Homo sapiens: one gene and its partner. The protein of the gene in region 2 interacts with the protein of the main gene of each other region in a pairwise test. Each region holds a gene or a part of one and is shown on either strand. Other genes may lie near its edges.

The links. The genes of interacting proteins can lie anywhere in the genome.
Region 1: the proteins of SLC38A9 (region 2) and LAMTOR3 interact in binary tests that used the Homo sapiens proteins (3 or more experiments, as listed by UniProt).

Annotation. Positions count from the first base shown.
Region 1 is NC_000004.12:99,891,428-99,898,378, forward strand, and holds the start of LAMTOR3 (ragulator complex protein LAMTOR3), read right to left. Parts: upstream 3,001-6,951; 5' UTR 2,908-3,000; intron 2,574-2,907; 5' UTR 2,537-2,573; coding exon 2,528-2,536; intron 608-2,527; coding exon 573-607; intron 1-572. UniProt on the Homo sapiens protein: As part of the Ragulator complex it is involved in amino acid sensing and activation of mTORC1, a signaling complex promoting cell growth in response to growth factors, energy levels, and amino acids.
Region 2 is NC_000005.10:55,667,302-55,674,324, forward strand, and holds part of SLC38A9 (neutral amino acid transporter 9), read right to left. Parts: intron 5,395-7,023; coding exon 5,262-5,394; intron 2,579-5,261; coding exon 2,457-2,578; intron 2,320-2,456; coding exon 2,256-2,319; intron 2,021-2,255; coding exon 1,927-2,020; intron 1-1,926.

The DNA.
Region 1 (6,951 bases), on a different chromosome or scaffold from region 2:
CCACAAATCACTACATAAATAATTATGTAATTAACAGATGCACACTGTCATCAGTAACCAGCCACATCATTTCTTTCAAAGTATGTTGATGGTTGGTCACTGTGCATCTGTTATGCAGCTCATGCAGAGATAGCAAAGCATGTAGTTTTGTACCTCCTTGTCTCCCAATGATAAAGTATGTGACATTTAGAAAAAGAGATAATAAAAAGAGGAAACTGGCCAACAAAGACGAAATACAGCAAAGAAATGAAAAGTAATAATGCTGAAATTTCAAATAGAAATGCTGAATTTCAAATAGAAAGTAAAGAATTATAGAAGAAACAGATGACCAAGGGAATGCTGACACTATCGCTCTAGATACACAGAGAACTCAGTGAAGGCAAACTTATTGACATAAATGAGGAAAGCGGTTGTGACGAAAATTTTCCAGAGGACGTGAGGCTGGCAAAAAATATTCATATTAAAGGAAATCTCAGAGATACTTCACAACATGGAAAATACAGACAAAATGCTTCATAAAATTAACATATGGCATATAGAATTTATTCAATAACAAATTAAAAATTTCTTACCTTGGTAACTTTTTATACAAGAATCGCTTTAGGTCCTGAAAGAGAGCATTAAAAAATAATGTTGTAATAATAGGCCTTCCACTGTTTTCTAGATCCTGTCCTATCCAAATTTTAAGGAACTTCAGTTATCATTCATAACCTTTCTTGCTGTGTTTTATCTTTCTCTGTCTGATTTGGATGTTTACTAGTCACGCAACTTGGAGTAAGTTAACCAACCTTTTTTCGCTAAGCTTATTTCATTATTTGTTGAATAGGGCTAATATAGAACCTACATCATAAAAGTGTTGTTAAAAGTTTATTGAGAAGATGCATGGATTAGCATACCTAGAAATGGGAAACACATTTTAGCCATAAAATTACATCATAATTTTCATACTAGTGTTTTACATCCTGTTGCTATTGTGTTCACTTGAGAAGACGTTATAAACACCTTTCCATGTTCAAAGATAGACTTTCCACCATCATCTTAATGGTCTTGGGTAAGGTGATATGACCTCTGTAAGACTGTTGTCTCACGTGACTATCACATTATAAAAATATGCCTTCCATTGTTTCATTATTTGTTGAACTCACCTACTCAACAAATAATGAAACAGTGTAAGGCATATTATTATAACGTAATTTTTAAAATATTTTGTTTAAGGACCTAAAATAAATTCTATATGACTATGTGAGGCAACATTTTTTTTTTTTTTTGAGACGGAGTTTCGCTCTTGTTGTCCAGGCTGGAGTGCAATGGCGCGATCTCGGCTCACTGCGACCTCTGCCTCCCAGGTTCAAACGATTCTCCTGCCTCAACCTCCCGAGTAGCTGGGATTACAAGCACCTGCCACCATGCCCAGCTAATTTTTTGTATTTTTAGAAAAGACAACGTTTTACCATGTTGGCCAGGCTGGTCTCGAACTCCTGACCTCAGGTGATCCACCCGCCTTGGCCTCCCAAAGTGCTGGGATTACAGACGTGAGCCACCGCGCCCAGCCCAGTGTTACAGAATATAAAATAAATGACAATGTGTGTCAAGTGTTTAACACGAAACACAGTTAAGACTAAAGAAGTAGAAGACTATTTTATTTTTCTAAGCTGGGGCTCACTGCAACTTCCAACTTCTGGGCTCAAGCAATCGTCTCGCCTCACTTCCAGCATAGCTGTGACTACAGAGGTATCAATGCGCCTGGCTGATTTTTAAATTTCTTTTTGTAGAACGGGGTCTTGCTATGTTGCCCAGGCTGATCTTGAACTCCCGGCCTCAAGTGATCCTTCCATCTCGGCCTCCCAAAGTGCTGAGATTACAGACTAAGCAACCGCATTGGCCAGAAGACTATCTTATTTTGTCTCATTACACTCTCTTATCCCAGGAATTTCACTGACAATTTAGGTATCAATTTTGACCTCACATGGATTAATCAGGTATCTCTTGTTTTGAGCATCCAGCACTTACTATTCTCCAAACCCGACTGATCATTTTATCCTCCTACACACACACACACACACGTTACCATGTTTCTAAAGAGGCATGGGTTAGAAATCATCGTAAATTGCTACAATAAACCAAATGAGATATTGTTATCACTTACTGGAAAAAAGTATTGTGGGTACATGTCCTACTGACCAAATTCTGACAGGAAAAGCAGCAAACCATCATTCAGAATTTCAAATGGTAAATATACAGAGCCTCTCTTATGCCCCAGCTGGACTGGGGAGTAGGGAGAACCTAATTTTCTCAGTCTCAAGCACCTTAGTGTCCTACACCCCCATTCGAGGCAGAAACTCAGGATCCTGCAAATTCATTCATATTAGTCTCCCACTTCAGATATCAGAGAAAATAATTAACTGGGATGGGTGGGGCTGGGAGGATCAAAACAAATTTCTGTTTGGGAAGTTCTACCTCTCCCCGCTCAGTATGCCCCTCAAAATTCCCCACTCTCCCCTTCCTCTTATGTAGGGGTGTCACTCACATCCGCCATGATGAACCCCCTTCTCTCGCAGGATCAATCTCCACGCCTGGAAGAGAAACTCCCGGTGACTCTTCCCTCTTTGGCTTCCTCGTCCTCCCCACCCACAACTTAATACGCGAGATCAGCCCTGGTCAGAACCAGGTAAAACCCCCGCGGTTCTAGGGCTTGGCCCAGCGAGCCCAGTGGGAGTCGGAGTGCCCCAGCACCCCCACAGGTACTCAGCTGGCACACCTTACCTCAGCCCACCCCATCCCTGCCCCTCCACCCCAAAGAGCTAGGCCCAAAGAAAAGAAGAGAGGGTCCTCTCCTTCTGTTTAATCTCACCACCCGCGCCACCTGCGGGACTAGGCCTCAAAACCAGGCAAAGTAGCGCCAGTTACCTGGGGTTTCTGGGCTGCCTGGTTCTCTCCGCTGTCACTTCAGGGACAGCTTTAAAGACAGGTTCCTCCTCAAGCCACCGTCACATGATTCATGACCTCGTCTGCGCTCCAGGAAGCACTTTCTAAGCCGCCGTCGCCCTACGATACGGGATTTCCGGAGGGGCCCGGCGGAAGCTGCGAGGGCGCGTCCGGCGGCCGCGCCCCTCCCCTCCCCCCCGCCCCGCACGCGCCCCGCCCCTCCCCCGCCCACCGCGGGCCGCGTCTTGCGCCTGCGCCTTGTGTCACGGGCCGAAGGAAGTCAGCTGTGGGGTAGATTTGTACGAGATCGCTGGACCCTAAGGAACCCAGAAAATGCAAGCAAGGTTATGTGTTACAAGACATTCTTGTGCAGAGAGGGTGTATAAATGTCATTAGTTTTGCAGGGTCTGTTATCTTAAAACCTTTTCTTGTAGATGAAGAAATTTGAGGGGATGGTGTGATGAGCTGAAGAGCAAGCACCAGATTGCCTGTGATTGGAAGTACCAGGTCCACAGGTTTCTGACCTGTTTCCTAGGCTCTTGTGACTTCCCCATGGGTGCTCTTTACTGAAGGCCTTACCTAGATTGAATGGGGAGGAGCCATGGGTTTTCTGGAGCACTTCAAGCGTCTACTTTTAACATGCAGACACTGATTACGGGCACCTTCTATGTTCCCTTTTACATCAGAATTTTTAAAAATTAGTAAGGTCTCATGTAATAAATAATAATTGAAAAAAATAAAAGGCTTTCCGGGTGCGGTGGCTGACGCCTGTAGTCGCAGCACTTTGGGAGTCCGAGGCGGGACGATCCTTTGAGCCCAGGAGTTCCACAGCAGCCTGGCAAGATAGGACCCCATCTCTACAAATAATAATAATAATTAAGAATTATCCGAACGTGGCGTGCACCAGGTACTCGGGAGGCTGAGGCAGGAGGATCCCTTGAGCCCAGGGTTTGAGGCTGCATCGAGTGGTGATCGCCCCACTGAACTCCAGCTTGTGTGACAGAGCGAGACCCTCAAAAGAAAAGCTTCTTTAGAAATCGCATCCTCTTTCAGCTACCACACTGTTTTTCCTCTACTCCCTTTCATAGCCAAATTTTCAGAAAACTTTAGCCTGGTTTTCAATTGCTGCTTCCATATGTCACAAATCTAATCAGAGTTCTGTTGATTCTACCTCCTATCTTTGAAAACTATTCACCTATCTATATTCCTACCCTACTCCAAGCCATGATCATCTCTCTTTTGACAACAACCTCCTATTCTTCTTACATTCTCTTTTGCCCTCCAGTCTCCACACAGCAACAAAAATGATGTTCTAAAGACCCAAATCACATCATTTAACTCCTTCCTTGAAAATCAAGTTTATTGACTTAGGATAAAGTTCAATATCAGCATCATGGTTTATATATCATTCTTATGGGGATCTGGCCCCTATCTTAATTCTCTCACCTACCCTGGATTCCTTATGCTATGATCATACAAGTTTGTTTTCACTTCCATAAAGATTTTTATCACTTTACCAACTTAGCACGTTCTGCCTGAGATATTTCTCTAGCATACCTTAATCCTACTAATCTCATCTTTTGCATTTTGGCTTAAACTCACTCTCAGAGAAGCCTTCCCTGACCCTCACTGAATAGTTTAGGTCTTCTAGATAAATGCTTTCATTGTACCCTGTAATTTTCTTTGTAGAATTTATCATAATTATAATTATTTACTTGATATTTATTTTCTTTGCTAGATGTAAACTCTTTAAGGTTTTTGTCTTTCTTATTCAGTGATTAATTCCCAGCACCCAGCTCACTGCCTGGGATATAGCAAGCATTGACATACTTGTTGAATAGTTGAATGAATGAAAGAGTGGCCATATTGAGTATAAAACATGATAAAAACAAACATTTTACAGTGAGAACAGACCTTTTTATTAATATATTGAGATAAACTACAGAGACTGAAAGACAAAAATTCATATTTCATTCAGAACATTCATTAAAAATCAAATGCATTTGAGTTCTCACAGAAAATTTTATGTAAGTCTGATATAACATTAAATATTTTACAAATCAGACATTTCATTTTGAAATCTAATTTTTAATCCTGAATGCATTATAGACAAAGTAAGCTCTCCTTTACCAATTTCATTTAACTTATACAAGGCTTCCATTATAATTCCATCAAACCTTAAAAATTACCTGCAGCTTTTAAAAACACATAAAGTAAATGGAAAGAAAGTCTTATGTAGCAATCCAAAAACTAAAACTAGAAATTGGCAAGAAGCATTTCTTAATACAGATAAACTGCAAAATATCATTTATGTGTGTTTCTTCTCATTGGTTTAATCATCCTATTAAAAATAATTTTTTGAAAGTAATAATTACAATACTCCAATGTCACTGAAAATCTCTATGATTTTAATGGTGTCCTTAAATGGCAAAGTAGAATATCAGACTGAAATGTACAGAGTGTTGTGCTGAAGTGAATGAGACTTGCCATGCCAGGTGTCATCTGCTATGCAGTTACAAGACATCTTGGCAACTAGTCATCCCAGTTTTTACTAACTTACTAAACAAGGACATTTCAAGAAATACTTCTTACCCCTATGTATTTCCAGATGGCTGGATATAGAAAGATATAATTATGTTTGAAGCATGGGCCTTATAATAGGAATCTCTCCATTAAAATATGAAAAAGAGCAACAAATAATTCACACCAATGAAATTGTGTTGACTGATTTTCAAAGTCAGACATAAAAATATCCACTGCTAATGGAAGCCCTGCTCTGTGCAAACATAGTGTGGTATATATTAAACAATCACACATTTGAGGTAATTAGCTGGGAAAAAAAAAAAAAAATATATATATATATATATACACCTATACATAGACACATCCACAGAATATTCACAAATCTATTGGCCCCAACACCAGCAGATAGTCATATTAAATGAAAAATATCACATACCAACAGGAAAAAGTTACACATAGGGAATATACAAAAAATATGGTGCTATAATCCTTAATATAAGGAGTATGTTTTGAATTAATGTTTTGAGGAAAAGTGTTTCCATTTATATGAAAGTATCTATTTAATAGTAATAAAACCAAAAAGGAAGCTGAATTCTAGGACTGTTTTACCTGCCAAATAATTGAAGGGATGAGCAAGAATTCCTTGAAAAGCCTCATTCTATCCTTTTTCTTTGTAACTAAAAATTAGAATTTAAAATGTTGGAAATTATTGCCAGACAAGTTTCTTTTCATTGGTTTATAGGGAATTTTATGGATTTTAACTAGGCAATGGTCCAATGTGGTCAACAGACATGGTTTTTCAGCTGTTGAATGAAAATTAAAATAAAGATTTATTGTTGATTTTCATTAGTTTTTCTGTTCAGATAAGAAAAAAGATTATGAATTCCCTTTCAGTTTGCTTCACTCATTATGAAGATGGATAGTAATAGGATAGTACTGAACCCAAGCTTCACATGGGGAAGCTCAAGAAATGTACAAATTCTCTTCTTAACCATTTGGTCCTCTGATATAAAACTTGCTTAACTGGCAAGATGGCTCACTTGGTCCTCAAGCCAACATCAAGAAATATTTAGCTGTCTTAACACAGGTGGGAGACTTTTTTTTAATGAAATACATAGGAATCCATTAAGTAACATTAGCATGTCATGTGTTAAATAGCTTCATTTAAAAATGTTACAGATCAACAGAAGGGAAATCAAAAACTTATTTTTCTCAGTAACTACTTTACATACTAGTGTAATTAAAGGTTTAACTGGAAGAAAAATTCAGCATAAAAGTATAATTAAAGTAAAAAGCTGGTATTCCACATTCCTGTTCCTATGAACACCTGAGCTGGCACAAAAGCTGAGTAGTTTAATGCATTGGCATATATATGCCTTAAGGACTGTACTTTTCTCTACCAAATCTTTGTAAATCATAAACAAGCATGTAATGATTATGAAACAAATACTTATTTAGGTGTTCAAATGTAATCTGTTTACAAAATATATTATTTTCACTTAT
Region 2 (7,023 bases):
TTAATGAAAACTGCTTTAGCATTTCATAATTTTAGAATGGTGCCGGTACTTGTCTGGGAATAAATAGACTTTGCTATTTTTAAGTAGTGCTTTTCACTTAGAGTTTTAATCAGAAACAGGTGCTGAATTCTATTAAGTGCCTTTTTGATATCTATTGATGTAATTATGAATTTTTCTTTAATTTGTTAATGTAGTGAATTATGTTGGATTTCTTAATAATGAAACATCCTTGCATTACTGGAATAAACCTTATCTTAGGCACAGGATATGTTTTGATATACTGTTGGATTCTATATGATAATGTTTTACAAATAAATTTTACGTTTCTATATTATTTTCTTTCTTTTTGGTAGTGTCAGGCTTTGTGTTAGGGGTGTGTGGACTTTGTAAAATGAATTGGTGGAAGTTCTTCTTTTTATTATTTTTATTTTATTTTATTTTATTTTAAGACAGTGTTTCACTCCATCACCCAGGCTGAAGTGCAGTGGCACAATCTTGGCTCACTGCAAGCTCCACTTCCTGGGTTCAAGCAATTCTCGTGCCTCAGCCTCTCTTCTTTTTAAATGGTGTGGAGTAGTTTAATAACATGGAAGTTAACAGTTATAGAGCCAATAATCCCAGCATTTTGGGAGGCAGAGGTGAGCAGATCACTTGAGCCCAGTAGTTCGAGACCAACTTGAGCAACATGGTGAAACCCTGTCTCTATGAAAAATACAAAAAATTAACTGGGCATGGTGGTATGCACCTGTAGTCCCAGCTACCTGGGAGGCTGAGGTGGGAGAATCACCTGTGCCCGGGAAGTCCAGGCAGCAGTGAGCTGTGATAGCGCTGCTGCATTCCAGCCTGGGTGACAGTGAGATCCTGTCTCCAAAAAAAAGGAAAATAAAAGAAAAAACAGTTATAGAGAGAACTCTGTGGGGGCTCTGTTCCAATTTTAAATGAGATGCTGAATTAGATAAGACATGAACTTACTGTATACATTTAAAGAAGTCTTCCAAGTTCAGCCACAATTTGCCTTAGAAACCAGAGGCTAAAATTATCTCCTCTTACCATTTAGAAACCAGAATGAATCTTCTCTCAAGACTTTTTTATTTTTTATTTATTTTTTATTTTTTAAGATGAAGTATTGCTACAGTGCCAAGGCTGGCCCCAAACTCCTGGGCTAAAGTGATCTTCCCACCTATGCCTCCTGAGTTGCTAGGGCTACAGACACACACCACCAGGTCTGGCTTCTCAAGACTTTTAAACAAATACTTGCCCAGTGACTAATAGGAGATCTGGTTAACATAAAGAAGGAAGCTGCTTAGTAGGCACAGAAAAAAACTGGAGGCAAAGTCTGGCCTGTTGATTCATACTTGCTAAGATTTAATGAAATAATGCATGTTTGTTTAGGTCCTAGACTACTTTAAAACAACCTAAAAAAGATATTTCCCTGATCCAGAATTTGTAGATACGAGTAGAGGTAAGGTGTTCACACAACTTCAAATATTCATTACTAGGGAGTTGCTTACATTTTCATATTTTTCTAGTTATAATTTCTACTTTTAGCAGATTCTAACATTTAGATCTTTTGGTATGAATAGGTCAAAACAAGTCACCATTAACTGACAGGAAGCACAGAATTCTCAATTTAGTTTTGGCAAAGACATTATTTTATAAATATGAGTTTTTAAATGATTCTTATGAAGAAACTAGCACCAAAGTGAATGCACTCTGCAAATAACTCCCAGCTTCTCTGAATTTCAAAAGCAGCCACTAAATATTATTAGCAAATCAATTTAGCTGAAAGCGATGAATTACAGAAGTAAATCTTTAGGTACAAAGTAGACAGCTGACACACATGTAGCATATACACACTAGTGATCTGCCTCAAAGGGAAATGCTTATTAATACCCATAATCTATTGTCACTGTGTCAAATTCTTACACATCATAGTCCGTGATTTCACTACTCTGTAGCAGCAATAAAGTGTTAAAAGGCCCATCAGTATGATGACACACATTCCAGTAGTAAATCCAGCCTGTTTAAAAATAAAAGTATAAAACAGCATATATCATCATGTAAGCATAAATTCATATGCAATTATTTTACCCTAAACAATCATGATAAAAACTTGACAACTCATGAAAAACTAAATATAACCATCTATTTTCTTTAATGAATTTTATGTAGATTTATTAAAACCTCTGTTATAAAACTTACAATATAAAGAGAAAAACATTTAGGCAAAAAGTGTGCTGAAAAATTAGTATTACCTGTTTTATGCCCCAAGGAATGCTTAGTATAGATGTTCCCATCATGGTATTCCAAATCATAAAACTGAAAACACAGAGTAATAGCAGTAAAAAAATGGAGTTTCACTCTTCAAACATTTTAATTGAGACAAAAATTTAAAAAACCAGTAATTTTCATCCATATACAGTTTAAGTCATGCTCCAAAAAGCAGTTTCACTCACATGGTTACTAAACTGGTGTTTTTACCGTATCCTTCAGTGTAACTTTGAAGTTTATAAGCAGAGCCCAATGGACTATACACATAGCACTCTTCTGGAGCTGGAACTACATGGTCTGGGGCAATCTGGTAAAAAGGAAACATAGATAAATTTCAGAACCAGGAAATGCAAAATAGGATATTTGTTACACATCAGAACACCTGACTCTAGACACCTTTTTTTTTCTTTTGAACGGAGTCTCGCCCTGTCGCCCAGGCTGGAGTGCAGTGACGCGATCTCGGCTCACTGCAAGCGCCGCCTCCTGGGTTCACGCCATTCTCCTGCCTCAGCCTCCCGAGTAGCTGGGACTACAGGTGCCCACCACCACGCCTGGCTAATTTTTTGTATTTTTTTGTAGAGACGGGGTTTCACCATGTTAGCCAGGATGGTCTCGATCTCCTGACCATGTCATGATCCACCCGCCTCGGCCTCCCAAAGTGCTGGGATTACAGGCGTAAGCCACCACGCCTGGCCCTCTAGACACATTTTAACTATCATAAACAAGTACTATGAATCTCTGATTAGTGAATTAAAAAATGACTTTTCAAATATAGAAAAACTAACTAAAAAAGCAAGTTTTAAAAACCCAAAATAATTTTGGAATTTTCAGAAAACGAGTGTGGATGCAAGTACTATGCATCCCTGATTAGTGAATTTAAAAATTATTTTTCAAATATAGAAAATCTAACTAAAAAAGCAAGAGTTTAAAAATCCAAAATAGTTTTGGGATTTTCAGAAAACGAGTGTGGATGTATACACACATTCATTAAGAATGGTTATATCATTGTCAATTTTACATCACTGTTTATATATTTTGACTTCCTAGACTCATCTCAGTGTCAGTTAACAAATGGCATTCAACTTTGGTGCACATGCTGACTCTATTTCCAGGCAAACAATATACATGCAGGTATAAACTTGCTCATCTGGGATCTTGGAGGTTTGTTTCCAAGAGCAGAGCCTCTAGAAGGTCTCAACTAGACCCAGAGATACAGGATTATCTCTACTCCTCCAAGGGCTTAAGTAATTCCATTATGGAACTAAGACTTCGCCACAACTACTGATGTCAAGGCCTAAGGGGAAAAAGCCGAAAAAAAAATTGGGAAAAAAATTATCCTACCCAGAACATTTTGGAAATCCCTATTTTGGCCATACAAGAGGAAATCTTAATATTTATTTCACATAGCTATTGTTTAGGCTTAAATGAGATAGCTACATTCCAGTGATGCCCAATCACTGGTCCTTATTAAATGTTAATGAATGTTGGTTCTCTTCTTTTTATTAATAATACTAATTTCAAAATCCTGTTTTCTCCCAGAATGTTCTTATTTTCAGTTAAACTTGCAAGTTTCTGACTATCTCATATGCGGTAGTTTTTATAAACTACCAAATTACTTATATATATTTTTTATCCTAAAATAGTAATAGAGATTTTTAGAAGATCAAGGGTCAACAAACTCCGGCCCATAGGCCAAATCTGGTTTCAACCTGATTATTATACAGCCTCTTTCCTGAGAATGGTTTTTATAATTTTATAAATTTTATAATTTATAATTTTGATGATCATAAACAAAATGAAGAATATCATGTGACCTCAAAGTCTAAGACATTTAGTATCTGGCTCTTTGACTCCTGGTTTTGATCAATAAAAGAATAATGCTAAATAAGAAACTACTATATTTATGTGTACATATTTCAGTTTCCCATTCTTCTTTTTTTTTTTTTTTAAGAGATGGGGTCACATGGCCGGGCACAGTGGCTCACGCCTGTAATCCCAGCACTTTGGGAGCACAGTGGCTCACGCCTGTAATCCCAGCACCTCAGGGTGGGTGGGTCACGAGGTCAGGAGTTCAAGACCAGCCTGGCCAACATGGTGAAACCGTGTCTCTACTCAAAATACAAAAATGAGCCAGGTGTGGTGGCGCACACCTGTAACCCCAGCTACTCAGGAGGCTGAGGCAGGAGAATGGCTGGAACCCAGGAGGCAGAGGTTGTGGTGAGCCGAGATTGCGCCACTGCACTCCAGCCTGGGTGATAGAGCGACACTCCATCTCAAAAAAAAAGAGATGGGTCACACTCTTTTGCTCAGTCTGGGTGGGATGCAGTGGCACAATCACAGCTCACTGCATCCTCAAGGGATCCATCCTGGGCTCAAGGGATCCTCCTGTCTCAGCCTCTCAAGTAGCTGGAACTATAGGTGCGAGCCATCATGCTTGGCTAATTAAAAAAATTTTTTTTTGTAGAGACAGGGTTTCACCATCTTCTCCAGGCTGGTCTTGAACCCCTGGGCTCAAGTGATCCTCTTGCCTTGGCCTCCCAAAATGCTGAGATTACAGGAGTGAGTCACTGTGCTTGGCCAGTTTCCCATTCTTGTAGAAAATTTCTAAAAAAATATTTCCCTTACAGCTTCAAAGTTAAAATTGTCCACACTAAGCAGAACATGTTATTATTTGCTATTAGTCAATGGCCTAACTTGCCATTTCAAAAGTAATTTATCCTCCTCAGAGATTTGGGGAATGGGGATCAGGAGAATTTAATCCAAAAAAATCTCCAGGTTGTTGTCAACATAGAAACATTGTTTCAAATTTAGATAAGAATGAACTGGCCTGAGATGTAGGATGTGTGTTAATTACTATCTTTGACTTTGCATGATGCTGTCCTTGAAATACAGTCAGAAAGAAGTTCAATCACTGGGAGGTGCCCTGGCTTATATTGTTCACTGTTCATTTCAACTGAATTTTAGACTATTAGTAATGTTTTGTCTCTTACCAGTGCCTTGTCTGCAGGAGTGGTGAGCCGGCTGTAGTAATGAATTCTCTTGTTCATGGCAGAGGCATGGTCACTAACCCTCTGAATGACATGATTCACATTCACGATGTTTGTGGGCTCTATACAGAAAGGCCTACAAAGGGAATATACACTTGACAAAAAGTGTTCAGCCAAAAATTCTGGAAGTCAGCCTTTGAAGAAAATAACTTCTTATCCTCCATTAGTAATGGGATGCACAAAGGCAAGGCATTGACTTCTCACTTTTGGTGCAAACAGAAAATGTTACAAAAGAAGTATTATCCTATCCACAGAATAAAGCTTTTGTCTCATAACACTTTTACTTTAAGCACACTTTTTTTGTAATCTTCAGGAATTTAGCAACCGAGAAGACAAAACAGAAAGAACTTAAAACAGTTATTAAAAAGAAATACAGCAGCTATCAATTTCCAACAATGAAACTTAAGACAGCTTTGAATAGTCTCTCAAAAAAGCTTTTGGCACTAAATCAGAGAAATTATGGACTAAAATGTCCCTCTCCTGAAGAGTCTCTACTCCTTCCTTATGGGCCCAAGTTATTTCCTATGATAAACAGAATTCTTATTCCTTGGTTCATGTATTAAGGATTAGTGACCTCAACTATCAGATCCCTTATGAGACTTATCCAACTCAGTATAAAATGGAACATCATGACAATGGAGATATTTTGCCTCATTCTACTTTTTGCGGATTTTAGTAACATACCCTTTTATTTATATACATGCTTCCTTTCCACGTCTGCATCCTAATCAACTGCAGATTTTGGTGTTCAATCATCCTTTTCAGTCATCAACCTCTTCAGTTCCTTTCTGAAACTCCCTCATTTTCTTCTGAAGTTTCCAGTAATATACTATCCAAAATGAAAAGACCAGGCAGAGTTTTATCAAAAGACTGTATCCCTCTGCTGATTCTTAGGCTCCTTGAAATCATAAGTGACACTGTGCCCCAAATTGCACATAATTTGCCATTTCAGGCACAGATCCAAAGAAAGAAGAAAAAAAATCCAGATTTATCATTGGTTCCACTAACTCCTCTATACTTATGGTTCTGAAAGGAACTTAAAATGTAGTAACATATGGTAACCATTTCTGGAGATACTGTTAATCTAATCTTTTTTTTTTTTTTTTTTTTGAGACAGAGTCTCACTCTATCGCCTAGGCTGGAGTGCAGTGGTGCGATCTCGGCTCACTGCAACCTCCACCTCCTGAGTTCAAGCAATTTTCTGGCCTCAGCCTCCAGAGTAGCTGGGACTACAGGTGTGCACCACCATGCCTGACTAATTTTTGTATTTTTAGTAGAGACAGGATTTCACCATGTTGGCCAGGCTGGTCTCCAACTCCTGACCTCAGGTGATCCACCTGCCTTGGCCTCCCAAAGAGTTGGGATTACAGGCATAAGCTACCTCACCCAGCCGTTAATCTAATCTTGTGGGAAGTACTTGAAAAGCCAAGTGACTGAACATTTAATTTCTGCTATTTTTCTTATTAATTCTGTGATATTTGAGAAATGGTAGCAGAGGTGTTAAACTTAGTTTTATCTCTCTAGTTAGCATACAGAATCTTTGAATCTTTTACTATTTGTTCTCTACCGCAAAACCTAAATATGCTGGGTACTATATAGGTCAACTCAATGAATATGTAAATAGAGCACTTATAGAGCAAATATGTGGATATAGGGATCAATATGACATATTATATATACTAGTGCTGTGGTTTGAATATGTCCC